Linked DNA regions of Homo sapiens: region 1 is reported to be linked to region 2. Evidence: microRNA targets listed by miRTarBase, many of them from high-throughput screens and not tested one by one. Region 2 holds a microRNA gene; the other region holds the end of a gene's coding sequence.

Region 1 (7,038 bases), not on the chromosome of region 2:
ATTTGGGTTTCCTGTAGGCGGGGACACATTCTGTTTTCTCAAAATTTTGTTTTTCTTCTAGACTACTCGAGGGCAGATTTTGCAGGAATATCGAAAAATCAAAAAGGTGAGTGTCTCTTGTGTTGGGGTGGGCTCCAAGTGAGCCATGGGAGCTGGAGGGAGGAGGGTGGGCCCGGGGCAGCCTCCCTGCCCGCTACTTCCAAGGTGTGGGGGAAGAGCCTTTGAGTCTGAGGCCAAAGTTGCCCCACCACCCCCAGCTAAGTCTTCAGCTGTGGCATCCTGGCCCAGCCACACAAGCTGTGGAGGTGCGGGGGACCAACTCCCACTCTGCCCTTGGACCACAACCCTCCTTGCTGGGCACCAAGCCCAGGTTTTTGGTTTGGGGGGGACACTGGCCTGCTTACAGCGGGGAGCAGCACCCAGGGCGGCTCTGTCCTGAGCATGACTGTGCTGTCCCACAGACCAACACCAACTACAGCCAGGAGAAGCACCGCTGCGAGTACCTGCACAGCAAGCTGGCCCACATCAAGAGGCTCATCGCCGAGTACGACCAGCGGCAGCTGCAGGCTTGGCCCTAGCCGCCCTCCCCGATGGCGGGGATCTGGGAGGGTCGGGGGAGCAAAAGGCGGTGAGAGAGGATTTATTTAAAAAAATAAACCCGAGGAAGATGCTCATCTGAGCCAGCACCGCCGGCTTTCAGGGCAGCCCCTGCAGACGTCTGGCCCTGGCGGGTGGCTGCAAGCCCACCTCGGCCCTCCCTGCGCTTCCTGAGCAGTCCCTGCTTATGATGGGCTCCCCAGGAAGCCCACTGCCTCCTCCCTGGCTGCAGCCTCCGGGGTTCAGCCTCCTGTCTCGCCAGAAGACTCCTAGGCCCTTGGGGTGGCGCGCCTGCCTTTTCTAGTTTTATACAAAGACAGCCACTTTTAGCTACTGCTAATGAGACTTGAGTCTATTTTTGTACAAAAGAGAAGCAAAATCTTTTTTCTAAACCTGTGCCTCCCTCTCCTCGGACACCCAGGGTCTAGCCGCTGCCCTGGGTCCTGCCTGCAGTATTACAGAGGTCGTCGAAAGGTGCAGCTGCGTTCTGAGGGCGTGGGGAATGGGCAGGTGGCCTCTGCTGGTCTCTGGCTCTACGTTTAGGCACCCCTTTCCCCAGCCTCTCCTCCTTGGGCAGGGTCTCTGCTCCAGCAAGCAAACAGGGTGGCCCAGGTGGCTATTTTGAGAACTCCAGCTGGTGCCCCCAGACAGCTGCTCAGAGCCAAGGGGGCAGAGGGCTTTCAGCGCCCCCAGGCCTGCCCTGCTATTTCAGGCCCTCAGCTGTCGGGGGCCACTGTGTTTCTGTGCTCCAAGTTGAGACTCGGCCGCAGCGGCGTCAGACTTTTCTTTGCGATGTCCTCGGTTTCCCATTTGTTGCTGCTGCTGCTCATTCCACACTGTTGAGACCTTGTGGTCTCGATGCTGCTGGCCTCCCTCCGTCCCTCTGTCCACTTGTGGGTCCTGGGGTCGTCTTAGCAGAGCCACCGCCAAGGTTTGCACTCAGGGAGGGGCTGATGGAGGGCTGGGCGCCATGGGGTCAGGGAGGCCCCAGGGACCCATGGGCAGAGCTGGGGAGCCAGGAGGATGGGTCTGCCTGCTCTGGGGGTGCAGGCTCTGCAGACACCCCAATTGCTGCTCTGTTGCTGTGCCTAGTCTAGTGTCCCCCAAAGCATCGGGGGGCCACGCAAGTGTGGGTGTGTGAGTGTGCGTATGTGGGGACCCCCCAGGGCATGGTGGGGTCTGAGGCGTGTGTTCCCATTTAGGGCTGAATGAAGCCATGACTTGGAAAGGTGGTGGGGGGTGGATGGCGGCTGTGACTCAGGGCCCAGGGATCACATGGGGGTCACTGCTGCCATCAGCAGTCAGGCAGGGAGAACAGAAATGCAAAAATACAGATGTCTATTTTTCTAAACTGGGGGGTGGAGGGGTGCCTCCTGACAGCTTCCAAAGAGCTGACTGTGGAGGGCCCACAGTGTATCCCACCCCTGCCCGAGAGTCTCTCTCCTTTGGGACCCCCGGGTTCCCAGAGCTCCGAGGAAACTGATCCTTCATGTTTCAATAGCTGTTGTTGTTTTTCTCTTTGGGCCGGGCCGGGCCGGGGAAGGGCCGAGCAGGCTCCAGGAGGCCTCCAGAGTCAGCTGGACCTTGCTGTGTCGCCCGCAGGCAGCCCTGCAGACACCGGTGAGGTGGGATGATTTCAGGAGGTCCCAGCCCGGGACTGCCCGCCCCTCTGCCCTGGGAACCAGTCCAAGGGGCTGTCAGTTGAATTTGCCTTTTTGTTGTTGTTGTTGTTTTTGTTGTTTATTTGTTCTCCTTTTAAGGAATTATGAAGCTAAGAAAAGTTTTGTGTTTTGGGGGTTGGTGGACAAAGTTCTAGCTGATTAAATATGGTCTAACTTATTGATACTATTTTTTTTTCTTTTAATGTTGTACTGTGGAGAAAAACTATTTTGAGCCATGGGGTTGGTGTTTACAAGAACTTTCCACTTTTGCCAAAATGTTACAATTGAAAGGCATCTATCTGCGTCTTCAGTTTCCTGATATTTTCTTAAAAGATCTAGTGTCCTTTTTGTACACTAAACAGGTGAATGCTGACTTTTTTCATTCTCCAATAAATTTCACTGAACTGAACCTGGCAGCCCAGGCTGCCTGGCTGGTGTGTGTGGTGTGTGGGTGTTGGTGTATCTGTGTGTGTGGTGTATGGTGTGTATGTGTGTGTGGTGTGTGTTGGGGTGTGTGGGTGTGTAGTATATCTGTGTCGGTGTGTGTTGGATGTTGTGTGTGGGTGTGTAGTGTGTGTGATGTGTTAGGGTGTGTGTGTTGTATGTGTGGGTGTGTTGTGTGTGGTGTGTGTTGGGGTGTGGGGTGTGTGGTGTGTGTTGGGGATGTGTGTGGTGAGGATGTGGTGTTTGTTGGGATGTGGTATGTGTTGGGATGTGGGTGTGTGTTGGGGTGTGGTGTGTGGATGTGGTGTATCTGGGTGTGTGGTATGAGGGTGTGGTGTGTGTTGGGGTGTGTGGTGTGGGGTGTGTGTGGTGTGTTGGGGATGTGTTGAGGGTGGGTGTGTGTTGGGGTGTGTGGGTGTGGTGTGTGTTGGGGTGTGTTGGTGTGGGTGTGGTGTGTGTTGGTGTGTGTTGACCGGATGTGTGGTGTGTGTTGGGGTGTGAGGGTGTGGTGTGTGTTGGGTGGTGTGTGGTGTGTGTTGGGGTGTGTAGGTGTGTGTGTGGTGTGAGGGTGTGGTGTGTGTTGGGGGTGTGTGTGTTGGGTGTGTGGTGTGTGTTGGGGTGTGGGTGTGTGTGTAGTGTGTGGGTGTGTCACAGCCTGGTTTCTGTGGTGGCTGTCCCTGTCCTGTGGTTGGGGGTGGGCTGGCATCAGGAGGTGATGTGACCTGGGGCCGCCATAATGATGAGAAAGGGTTGTTCAGGGGCTCTGGCTGGGACCAGATAAGAAGGCAGAGTTTGCAGCCTACCTGAGCCGTTGCCTGAGAAAGGACCAAATCAGAGGGCCCTGTAGGTGACGGGGAGCGCGGGGGTGGGGGCAGGCTGGGTCAGGGCGGAGGGATAGGGAGCCATAGCAGGTGTGTGAGCACAGCAGTACCCTCTGGTGTGGATAGGGTGGGCTGAACCCAGCATTGGGATTCCTTGGCCCCCTGTGGCACCAAAGGCTACAGGAGTGGGGCTGGGGGTGGGGGAAACCAGCTGTGACTGTCTCCCTCTGATGAAAGCAGCAGCAGGTAACGGTAATATTACCTGTTCTTCCCACACTGGGGCAGGGGCATCCCCTGTGCCACTAGTGGGGATGGGGAAAAGGCCTGACGGGAGCGGCGGTGGTGCAGGTGGAACGAGCCAGGGGCCATGGAGAACATAACACTCAACCTGCCAGCCAAGGACAAGAAGGGGTGCATTTAGTAAGCGATAACACCGAAGAATAGGACCGTGGGCAAAGGTCCTGGGCCTGCAGCTGTGGGGGGGGCCTGGCCTCCCTGCCCGTCCGTGGCCTTGGCCCAAGTTCTAAGGCCACCCAGGAATCTGAGGGGCGCGGGAGGGGAAGTCATGCAGCCCAGTGGGGCAGCGTGTACCCTGCTCCCAGCATAGCCTGGCCACGCTGTTCTCCCAGGATAACATCTCTGTCCCAACATCCCAGGGCCAACACCAACCTCCTGCAGCTCACGGTCCTGCCTCCCCCGGCCCTCCAACGCCAGCCCTAAGCCAACTGCCCAGCAATACTCTGGCCATCACCCCCGCAGCCTGCAGAGGCCACAGTCAGTCCCCTGACCTTCCTGAGCCATGGATGCCATCAGTCTAGTGCCCCGGATATTCAGGAGAGCCTTCCCACCCTCATGACCTGGGCACCCTGGTAGAGAGGGGCTCAGAGCTGTTAAACCCTCTCCTGCCACCTGCCAGGGGCCCCAATTGTCCTCTTTCAACGGGCACCCCTGTTCCTGCAGCCCCCTCCTGTACCAAGCTCCACCTGGGCTCTGCAACACAGCAGTGACTCAGCCTCATCCCTGCCTTCAGGGAGCCCACACTTTGCTGGGGAATAACAGTGCATCTCACCACCGACTTCAGCACACCCAGGCCTGACTGTAGGGGCCAAACCCCCTCCTTCGGCCTTGTCAACTGCTGGGAGTGGAAGCAGCCCAGCCTCTATGCCGATTCCCTCCAGCTGCCCTGTGCCAGCTCCCATCCTCCGGCACCCTCTACAGGTGGCCCTGTGAACACAGGCTCCCCGGGGCTGGGTCTTGGGACCTTCCTCATGTCTCTCAACTACACAGGTTCCTGAATCACGTGTCGCCTCGAGGCACAAACTCCCCGATTCTCTGATCCTCCAGTACCTACAGGATGTCCAACAGTTCCATTCCCAGAGATGGTATCGGACTCCACAAGTTATGGGGGTCAGTCCCACAGGGCTGCACCTGTGTCAGATGCCACCTATACTTCTGGCAAGCAGGCTAATAAATTGCGAGTTCCCATGACCCCACTTCAGGTTTGATAATTGCTGGAACAGCTCACAGAACTCCGGAAAATGCTCACAGCCAAATGGAGGAGGCGCACAGGGCAAGGTATGGGCGGGCCGTGAAGCTTCCATGCCTTTTCCAGGCATGCCACCCTCCCAGCCCCTCCATATTTTCCCCTAAACCCCATTTTTTTTTTGAGACAGGGTATTACTCTGTTGCCCAGGCTGGAGTGCAGTGGTACAATCATGGCTCACTGCAGCCTACACCTCCTGAGCTTAGGTGATCCTCCCACCTCAGCCTCCCACGCAGCTGGACTACAGGTGTGCGCCACCAAGCCCGGCTATTTTTTGTTTGTTTGTTTGTATTGAGACGGGGTTTCCCCGTGTTGCCCAGGCTGGTCTCAAACTCCTGGGCTCAAGCGATGCGCCCGCTTTGACCTCCCAAAGTGCTAGGATTACAGGCATGAGCCACCGTGCCTGGCTGACTGCCTATTTTTCGGCTTAGGTTCTATGAAGAATGTGTATCAATGTGTTGAAACACTGTAGATCTTAAAGGGAGCAGACTGGGTGGGGGAGGGGGGCCAGCCTGCCCAGACTTCCTAGACTCTGGGTAGCATTCCTTCCTCCAGGGTATGGGCAGGACCCTCCCGGAATGAGGGTCTTCAAGGGAGCAGGCAGAGAGTGACCTTTGCCGGCTTTGTGGCTTTTTTTTTGTTTTAAGGGGAGAAGGGCTCCAGTGTCTCTGACCTGCCTTGGGGAAGAGGAATTCTGGTTTCTATGGTTTCCAGGGGAGAAAGGGGCTAGAGGCAGGAGGGCAGGAGAAGGTCGGAGAGACTCGATTCTGAGCTTTCCGATGCCCTGCTCAAAGCGCGGGGCAGGCCAAGGCCCCATAACTTGAGGCTGAGGGGAGTTTCTGTGTTCTGAGCCCCAACTGTCTCATTTGCATATATGTGATTGATTAAATCGTTGGCCACTGGTGATTGAGCTCAATGTCTAACCAAGAACCAGGAACAAACACCAAATACTCTTTCACACTCCCTATCCCCAGCCCTCAGGGTCTGCCCAAGACCCCAAACTGCCTCCCACGTAGCCAATTTTTCATCTGCCCTGTCTGGGTGGCTCAGGTGGCTTGGCCTGTAGTTTTCTTTCAGTGAACTCCTCTTCATGTCTCAAAACCCTTGCCAGCAGCCCCCTCATCTGGGGAGCCTGTCTTGCAGGGGCCCTGCCTGTGAGTTCCCACCCACTGGGGCGGGGGTGTCCCAGTCCACTTCCAACTCCCTCAGACTGGGGCCCCTTCAGGGTGAGGCCTGGACCCAGAGTCTTAAGCCCTCATCCTCCAAGGTCAGGCCCTGTCTCTTGCAAACGTTCCCAACTATCCACCTTTTGGGCCAGCTCCAGTGGTGGAAACTTTCCGGCCTCCAGGCGCTTGTTTTGGAAAGTTCCTGGGGGAGCTGCCCCGGCCTGCCCGCTGGGTTCCCACGCTCCCTTATCAGCGCGCATGAGGGGGGCGCCCTGCAGTGCAGGCCTCATTCCTCCCCTGCCTCGGCCCTGCCCGCCTGTGCGTCCCCTCCCCTTTCCAGCGAACAGCCTCCCGCTCCGGCCCACTCCTGCCAAGCCCTCCTGCTGCAGGTGGGGAAACAGGCCAAACAGGCCCCATCCTTGTGAGCCCCGTGGGGACAGAGTGACTTTGTCCCCCGAGATGGATGGGGGCGGACATGGGGAGCCAGGGGATGGGACTGCCTGGTAGGTGCTGCTGCCCACGAAGGGGGAGTAGGTGGCAGTGTGGCTCCGAGGAGATTCTGGCTTTGGAGTTCTGGTCCTCTGCCTGTTTCCCCTGCAGTGTCTCTGACCCAGACCCCCTACCTACCCCCCCGGAGGCCCAGCTTCCCTGCCCAGCTCCACCCCCTGGCTTGTGGCTGGGCTCATGTGTAGCCTCATTGTCCTCTTGTAAAGGGGGGATAGGCAGCCATGAGCCCCTGGGGGCTGCGGAGCGAGCGAGGTGAACCTATACGCGCCGCGCTCGTGGACGCCTGGCCACTTCCGCCA
Region 2 (7,262 bases):
CTCTAAATCAACTCATAAATTTTATTTTGTTTTATGTTTCAATTTTTTTTTCTGGATAAAAGGACAGATTCTTAGCTGCAATTATTAATTTATACTTAAACTTTGAGGAATTGTTAACATTTTTCTGAAGCTTTTAACTTGAAGTATTAGAGTTATATGGGTCTTTAAACATCCCCTGTTCAACCCATACATGGAAAAATTACCTCTCAGAGAGCTTTAACTTTCCCCTAATTTCTCAGTAAGATAGAAGCAAAATTGAAGCTTTAATTATGGTTTTCTTATTCAGAGTCAAGTTGCAAATACCTTGCAAATATAAAAGTAAATTCAACTTTAACTTGTCTCAGAAAAGAAACTATTAAGCTTATTTATACTAAGATATAAAAGCCTAACAAAGCCTTATTTACTTTTCCTAACAATATTCACACTGAATAGTGTTCAACTGGGGAATTCTATGCCTTACTGATCTTCATACATTTGAAGTATATTTCACTTCCTAGCCCAAGAAAGAGAAAGAATATTGGTAATCCATGTTTAGATTAATGGGGGGAAGAGGCTTCTTATCTGTGTCTATTCTTCTTCTTTTGAATTTGACATTTTATTTGGTTTAACTAAGGGAAATGGCATTCACAATGGTTATCGAAAAGAGAGCCTCTTAACTACCTGAAAATTAACTTCCTTCATTCCAAAGCACACTGTTTCAGAGCACTTAGTTACTTTGTTTTATGATTATCTCTCCCATGCAGAATCCAAAGTGTGGCATGCATCACATGAAGTGCCCTTGTGCAATACTTAAACCATCACTCTGATTCACTGAAGTAAAATAAGCTGTGCTTTATGAATGGACACCTATTAAATTCACCAAAAAGTATGCACCACCCCCAACACATGGGATTCCTTATAATGGCAGCTTTTAACACCTTTAAAATGAGAAATATTTTTCTTTTCTTACTACAGGTTGATTCTGCTCAAAAAAAAGAAAACAAAAAACTTACTAATATCCAAAAGTTCTTGCCTTTCTAGACCAGCTCCCTATGTCTGGGAATAAACACTAAAATAACTTGGGAGTAAGTCAGTTCCAATTAACAGTCCCTCCACCCATTCCTAATTGGGTTAACACTTTTTATTAGGAGTTATTTGTGCACTTTGTACAAATGCTAATGAACAACTCCCAAATGCTAATAAATGTGTCCATCTGAAAGGCAGAAAAAGCAGAACAAAACTAGAGTAGCCTTAACAGTTCAAAAGTGGATTCTGGAACTAATAAAATACTCTACGTACTCTACATACACAGGCAAAGTATTAGTATAGAAAGAAAAATTCACTATCTTGATATGTCAGGGAAAACGTGATATTGAAATCTTTTCTCTCTCTCTCCTTCCTTCCTTCCCTCCCTCCCTCTTTCTTTTTCTTTTTCTTTCTTTTCTTTCTCTGCCTCTCTTTCCTTTTCTTTTTCTTTCTTTTCTTTCCCTCCCTCCCTCTCTCTCTGCCTCCTTCCCTCCCTTTCTCCCTCTCTCTCTTTCTCTGTTTCTCTTTCTTTCTATTTCTTTCTTTCTTTTCTCTTTCTTTCTTTCTTCTTTCTCTTTTCTCTTTAGAAATTTAGGCATAACAACACTACAGAGAATAAAACTATCATTACAGTACACAGTAGCCACAAGTAGCCTATGATCTGAATTACTTGAAAAGTGATTGTTTTTCCAAGTTAACATAGTAATGTAGCAGAAGCTTTAAACTGACAATCTTCTATTGCAATGTTTCCAGAGATTCTTCAAAAGCTTTCAAATTAACCAAATATTAGGCAGTAGTAGAAATAGTAAAAATCCATATATACTGCCCTATACCTTTTTTACTTTCTTTTTTTTTTTTTTTTTTCCGAGACGGAGTCTGGCTCTGTCACCCAGGCTGGAGTACAGTGGTGCAATCTTGGCTCACTGCAAGCTCTGCCTCCCGGGTTCACACCATTCTCTTGCCTCAGCCTCCCGAGTAGCTGGGACTACAGGTGCCCGCCACCACGCCTGGCTAATTTTTTGTATTTTTAGTAGAGACGGGGTTTCCCCATGTTAGCCAGGATGGTCTTGATCTCCTGACCTCATGATCCACCCGCCTCGGCCTCCCAAAGTGCTGGGATTACAGGCGTGAGCCACCGCGTCCGGCCACCTTTTTACTTTCTGTTCACTTTTTAATTTTCTGCCTTCTCTAGACCTAGGAGAGGCTTTTATTGTCTGGTCACTAAAGAGTCTTCATAACAGCTGCTTTACACTAGATTTTATTTTTAAAATTCTCACCCAAGGGGAAATGTATCTATTAAACATTAATGCTAACTATGAAGAACCCACTACTGAGTAAAGGCTTGATGAGAACTCCCTGGACTAACCTGTTCATGGTCTCTTCCCAGTCCCCCATGCAAGCCTACCCAGGCCTGTGGCTTTCTCGGAGGTCATCCGGCCTCATTGTTTGAGACTTTTCCAGGCCCTGGCACCTCCTCTAACTTCACTACAGCTCTTCCTGCTTCAAATTCATCCATTTTATGTCTTCATCATCCATGACTTTCGTTTGAAATAAAAAGGCCAGGCTGGGCGCAGTGGCTCACGCCTGTAATCCCAGCACTTTGGGAGGCCGAGGCAGGTGGATCACGAGGTCAGGAGTTTGAGACCAGCCTTTCAAACATGGCGAAATCCCGTCTCTACTAAAAATACAAAAATTAGCCAGGCGTGGTGGCAGACATCTGTAATCCCAGCTACTGGAGAGGCTGAGGCAGGAGAATCGCTTGAAACTGGAAGGCAGAGGTTGCAGTGAGCCAAGGTCATGCCACTGCACTCCAGCCTGGGCGACAGAGTGAGATTCCGTCTCAAACAAACAAACAAACAAAAAGATTTATAAACAGCCTGCTTACACACCTCTCGGTTCTTCTTATCTCTTCTGAGACCTTACCCTTGCATTTACTGAAAACAAATAGAAAATTAAAGTAAATTCTAGAGTCATTTTCTGGATGCCTAAACTCACAATTGTTACCACGTTGTCAGATTTGCGTTCATCTTTCTCTTTTTTATTTTAAATGTTTATGGATACATAATGTTGCGCATATTAATGGGGTACATGTGATATTTTGATACAGGCACACGATGTGTAATGATCAAATCTGGGTAACTGGCATATCCATCACCTTAAACATTTATCATTTTTTTTGTGTTGAGAACATTCCAAATCTACTTTTCTAGTTATTTTGAAATATGCAATACATTATTGTTAACCACAGTTGCTGTACTGTGTTACTGAACACTAGATCTTATTCCTCCTATCTAACTATATTTTTGCACCCATTAACCAACACCTCTCTGTCCTTTCTTTCCACTACCCTTGCAAGCCTATGGTAACCACCATTCTATTCGCTATCTTACAGAGAGAGACCCCTTGTGGGCCAGTCTCTCAGTCTGATTCTTTTTCATATCTTTCCAAAGGCATCACAATAATGCATTCGTTTTTGCATAGCATTCCAGGAAATTGTCTATACATATATTTATCGGTTTATACCATTTATTGTTGTTTTAAGTTACAAAAATGCCATCTTATTGGATACATATATGTATCTGTAGCTTTCTTTTTATATTAAATTTATTTAAATAAAAATATCTAAAACATATCCAAGTTGATATTTATATATTTGTGCATTTATTATCACTACAGTAGAACTTTTAAATGTCAGGCACTGTTCTCAGCACTGTATTACAAATATTAACTCAATCCTCATAATAATTCTACATGGTACACACCACTTTTATTCTTGTTTTATAGCTGAGGAAGCTGAGACACAAACAGATTGAGTTACTTGCCAAAGCTACCCATGTAGTTAGTAGCAGAGATGAGATTTGAACTGCAATACTGACACCATTGTCAGACTTTATGCAAATAACCATGTTGCTATGATACACACATCTAGTTTATTCCTTGTTACAAATTTATAGAATTCTACTGTATAAAAATATTTTATTGATATATCGCTCTACCATTCTTGATTTTTTACTATCACAAACCATGTGGCAAGAAATATACTTCTATATAGGCCCTTGCATCTACTGTCTAGGGCTTCTGGAACATGTATATTTAGATGCAATTGCTGGACATACATAATTTCAATTCTAGCATGGTAGTTACGATCAAGGCTTTTGGATTCAGGCTGGCAGAGTTTGAATCCCAGCTCCATCACTTAGCTGTGTAACTCAGACCTGTTTTAGTTTCTCATATTTTGTTATCTTTTAGCCATTATTCTATGGAGTCATTTGTTCTTTTAAATGTATTTTTAGAGAATTTGTGCATTCTTTTTGTATGCCTTTGTCTTTCATATGTTGCTAATATATTCCTCTGGTCAGTTGTTTGACTCTTTTGTAAAGTCAGATCTGTGGATACACAGTTCCCATAAAATGAAATGCACCATTTTTAGGAGTACAGTTCAATGGGTTTTTTCCTTTCTGTTCTTTTTTTGGTGGAGGGGGCAAGGGCTTGCTCTGTTGCCCAGGCTGGAGTGCAGTAGTGTGATCATAGCTCACTGTAGCCTCCAACTGCTGAGCTCAAGTCATTCTCCTGCCTCAGCCTCCTGAGTGGTTAGGACTATAAGTGCATACCACAACCCCTAGCTATTTTTTTTTCTTTTTTTTTTGTAGAGGCAGATTCTCACTGTGTTGTCCAGTTTAGTCTTGAATTCCTGGCCTCATGCAATCTTCCTGCCTTGGCTTCCCAGTTCAATGAGTTTTGACAAACATATATAGTTATGTAATCATCAATTGATTGAGATAGAGTATTTCCATTATTTCTAGAAATTCTCCTGTGCTCCTTTGGATCAATCTGCTTCCCCAATATCTAAATTTCTGTTCCTATAGTCTTATTTTTTGAACTGCATGATAAAAGGAATTACACATTACGTTGCCTTCTGTGTTTAACTTCCTTCACAGAGCATAATGCTTTTGAAATTCATCCATGTTGTTGCATATTCCAGTAGTTTATTCCCTTTTATTGCCAAGTGGTATTTCATTGTATGTACGCTATACACTAGAAAATGGACATTTAGATGATTTTGAGTCTGGAGTTACTGTGGATAAAACTGCTATAAACATTCACATACAGATAATTTTGTGGACATATGTAATATGGTTTGGCTCTGTGTGCCCATTCAAATCTCATCTCTAATTATAATCCCCACATGTCAAGGAAGGGACCTGGTGGGAGGTGATTGGATCATGAGGACGGTTTCCGCCATGCTGTTCTGATGATAGTGAGGGATTTCTCATGAGATCTGATGGTTTTAAAAGTCCCAGTTTCTGCCTGTGTATACTCTCTTTCTCTCCTGCCACCATGTAACATGTGCCTTGCTTCCCCTTCACCTTCCACCATGATGTAAATTTCCTGGTGCCTCTCCAACCATGAGGAACTATGAGTCAATTAAACCATTTTTCTTTATAAATTACCCAGTCCTAGGTAGTATCTTCATAGCAGTGTGATAACAGACTAATACAGAGAATTGGTACCAGCAGAGTTGGGTACTGCTATAAAGATAAACTGAAAATGTGGAAGCGACATTGGAACTGGTAACAGGAGGAGGTTGGAACAGTTTGGAGGGCTTAGAAGAAGACGGGAAGATGTGGGAAAGTTTGGAACTTCCTAGAGACTTGTTGAATGGTTTTGACCAAAATGCTGATAGTGATATGAACAACGAAGTCCATGCTGAGGTGGTCTCAGATGGAGATGAGGAACTTATAGGGAACTGGAGCAAAGTCACTCTTGCTATGCTTTAGCAAAGAAACTAGTGGCATTTTTCCCCTGCTTTAGAGACCTGTGAAACTTTGAACTTGAGAGAGATGATTTAAGGTATCCGGTGGAAGAAATTGCTAAGCAGCAGAACATTCAACATGTGACCTGGCTTATTCTGAAAGCATTCAGTTATGTGTGTTCACAAAGAGATGCTTTGAAATTGGAACTTATTTTAAAAAGGAAGCAGAGCATAAAAGTTTGGAAAATTTGCAGCCTGACCATGTGATAGAAAAGGAATACCCATTTTCTGCAGAGGAATTCAAGCTGGCTGCAGAAATTTGCATAAGCAACGAGGAGCTGAATGTCAATAGCCAAGACAATGGGGAAAATGTCTCAGGGGCATGTCAGAGACATTTACAGGAGCCATTGTCATCACCGGCCTGGAGGCCTGGGAGGGAAAAATGGCTTCATACATTAGGATCAGGGCTTGGCTGCTCTGTGCAGCTTCAGGACTTGATGCCTTGTGTCCCAGAAGCTCCAGCTCCAGCCATGGCTGATAGGGGCCAGGGTATAGCTACAGCTGTTGCTTCAGAGGGTGCAAGTCCCAAGCATTGGTGGCTTGCAAGTGGTATTGGGCCTGCAGATGTGCAGAAAACAAGAGTTGAGGTTTGGGAACCTCTGTCTAAATTTCAGAGGATATATGTAAATGCTTGGAAGTCCAGACAATAGTCTGCTGCAGGGGCAGAGCCCTCATGGAGAACCTCTGCTAGGGCAGTGCAGAAGGGAACTGTGGGGTGTGAGCTCCCACACAGAGTCCCCACTGGGGCACTGTCTGGTGGAGCCATGAGAAGGCCACCATCCTCCAGACCCCAGAAATGTAGATCCACCAACAGCTTGCATTGTGTGTGTGGAAAAGCCACAGACACTCAATGCCAGCCTGTGAAAGTAGCCATGAGGACTATAACCTGCAGAGCCACAGGAGAGAAGCTGCCCAAGGCATTAGGAGCCCACCCCTTGCATCAGCGTGTCCTGGATGTGGGACATGAATTCAAAGGAAATTATTTTGGAGCTTTAATATTTAATGGCTGTGCTACATGGGGCCTGTATCCTTTTTGTTCTGGCCAATTTCTCCCTCTTGGAATGTGAACATTTACCCAATGCCTGTACCCCCATTGTATCTTGGAAGTAACTAACTTGTTTTTGATTTACAGGCTCATAGGCAGAAAAGGACTTGCCTTATCTCAGATGAGACTTTGAACTTGGACTTTGGGGTTAATTCTGGAATAAGTTAAGACTTTGTGTGACTGTTAGGAAGGCATGATTGGTTTTGAAATGTGAGAAGGACATGAGATTTGGGAGGTGCCAAGGGCAGAATGATATGGTTTGGCCCTGTGGCCCCACCTAAATCTCATCTTGAATTATAATCCCCACATGTTGAGGAAGGGGCCTGGTGGGGGGTGATTGGATCATGGGGGGTGGTTTCTACCATGCTGATCTTGTGATAGTGAGGAACTTCTCATGAG

Evidence for each region. Region 2 holds the annotated microRNA hsa-miR-4327 (GGCUUGCAUGGGGGACUGG, at 2,389-2,407, opposite strand). A microRNA usually pairs through its seed, bases 2 to 8, with sites in the 3' UTR of a target mRNA and lowers its output. Matches are read on the target gene's strand: a 7mer-m8 pairs with bases 2 to 8, a 7mer-A1 pairs with bases 2 to 7 and ends in A, and an 8mer does both.
Region 1: the mRNA of ELL is a reported target of hsa-miR-4327. Seed matches in the 3' UTR shown: 7mer-m8 at 737-743 and 7mer-A1 at 1,188-1,194.

Annotation. Positions count from the first base shown.
Region 1 is chr19:18,438,292-18,445,329 of GRCh38, reverse strand. ELL (elongation factor for RNA polymerase II) reads left to right here. Exons shown (of 12, transcript NM_006532.4): 11 at 62-106; 12 at 462-2,667. The coding sequence ends at 578. Among named protein-coding and RNA genes, the nearest start is that of ISYNA1, 3.7 kb to the right of the region's middle. RefSeq lists a silencer at 3,470-3,519 and enhancers at 4,313-4,372, 4,533-4,652, 5,998-6,984, 6,985-7,038.
Region 2 is chr21:30,372,962-30,380,223 of GRCh38, forward strand. MIR4327 (microRNA 4327) reads right to left here and starts at 2,417; the gene lies at 2,333-2,417.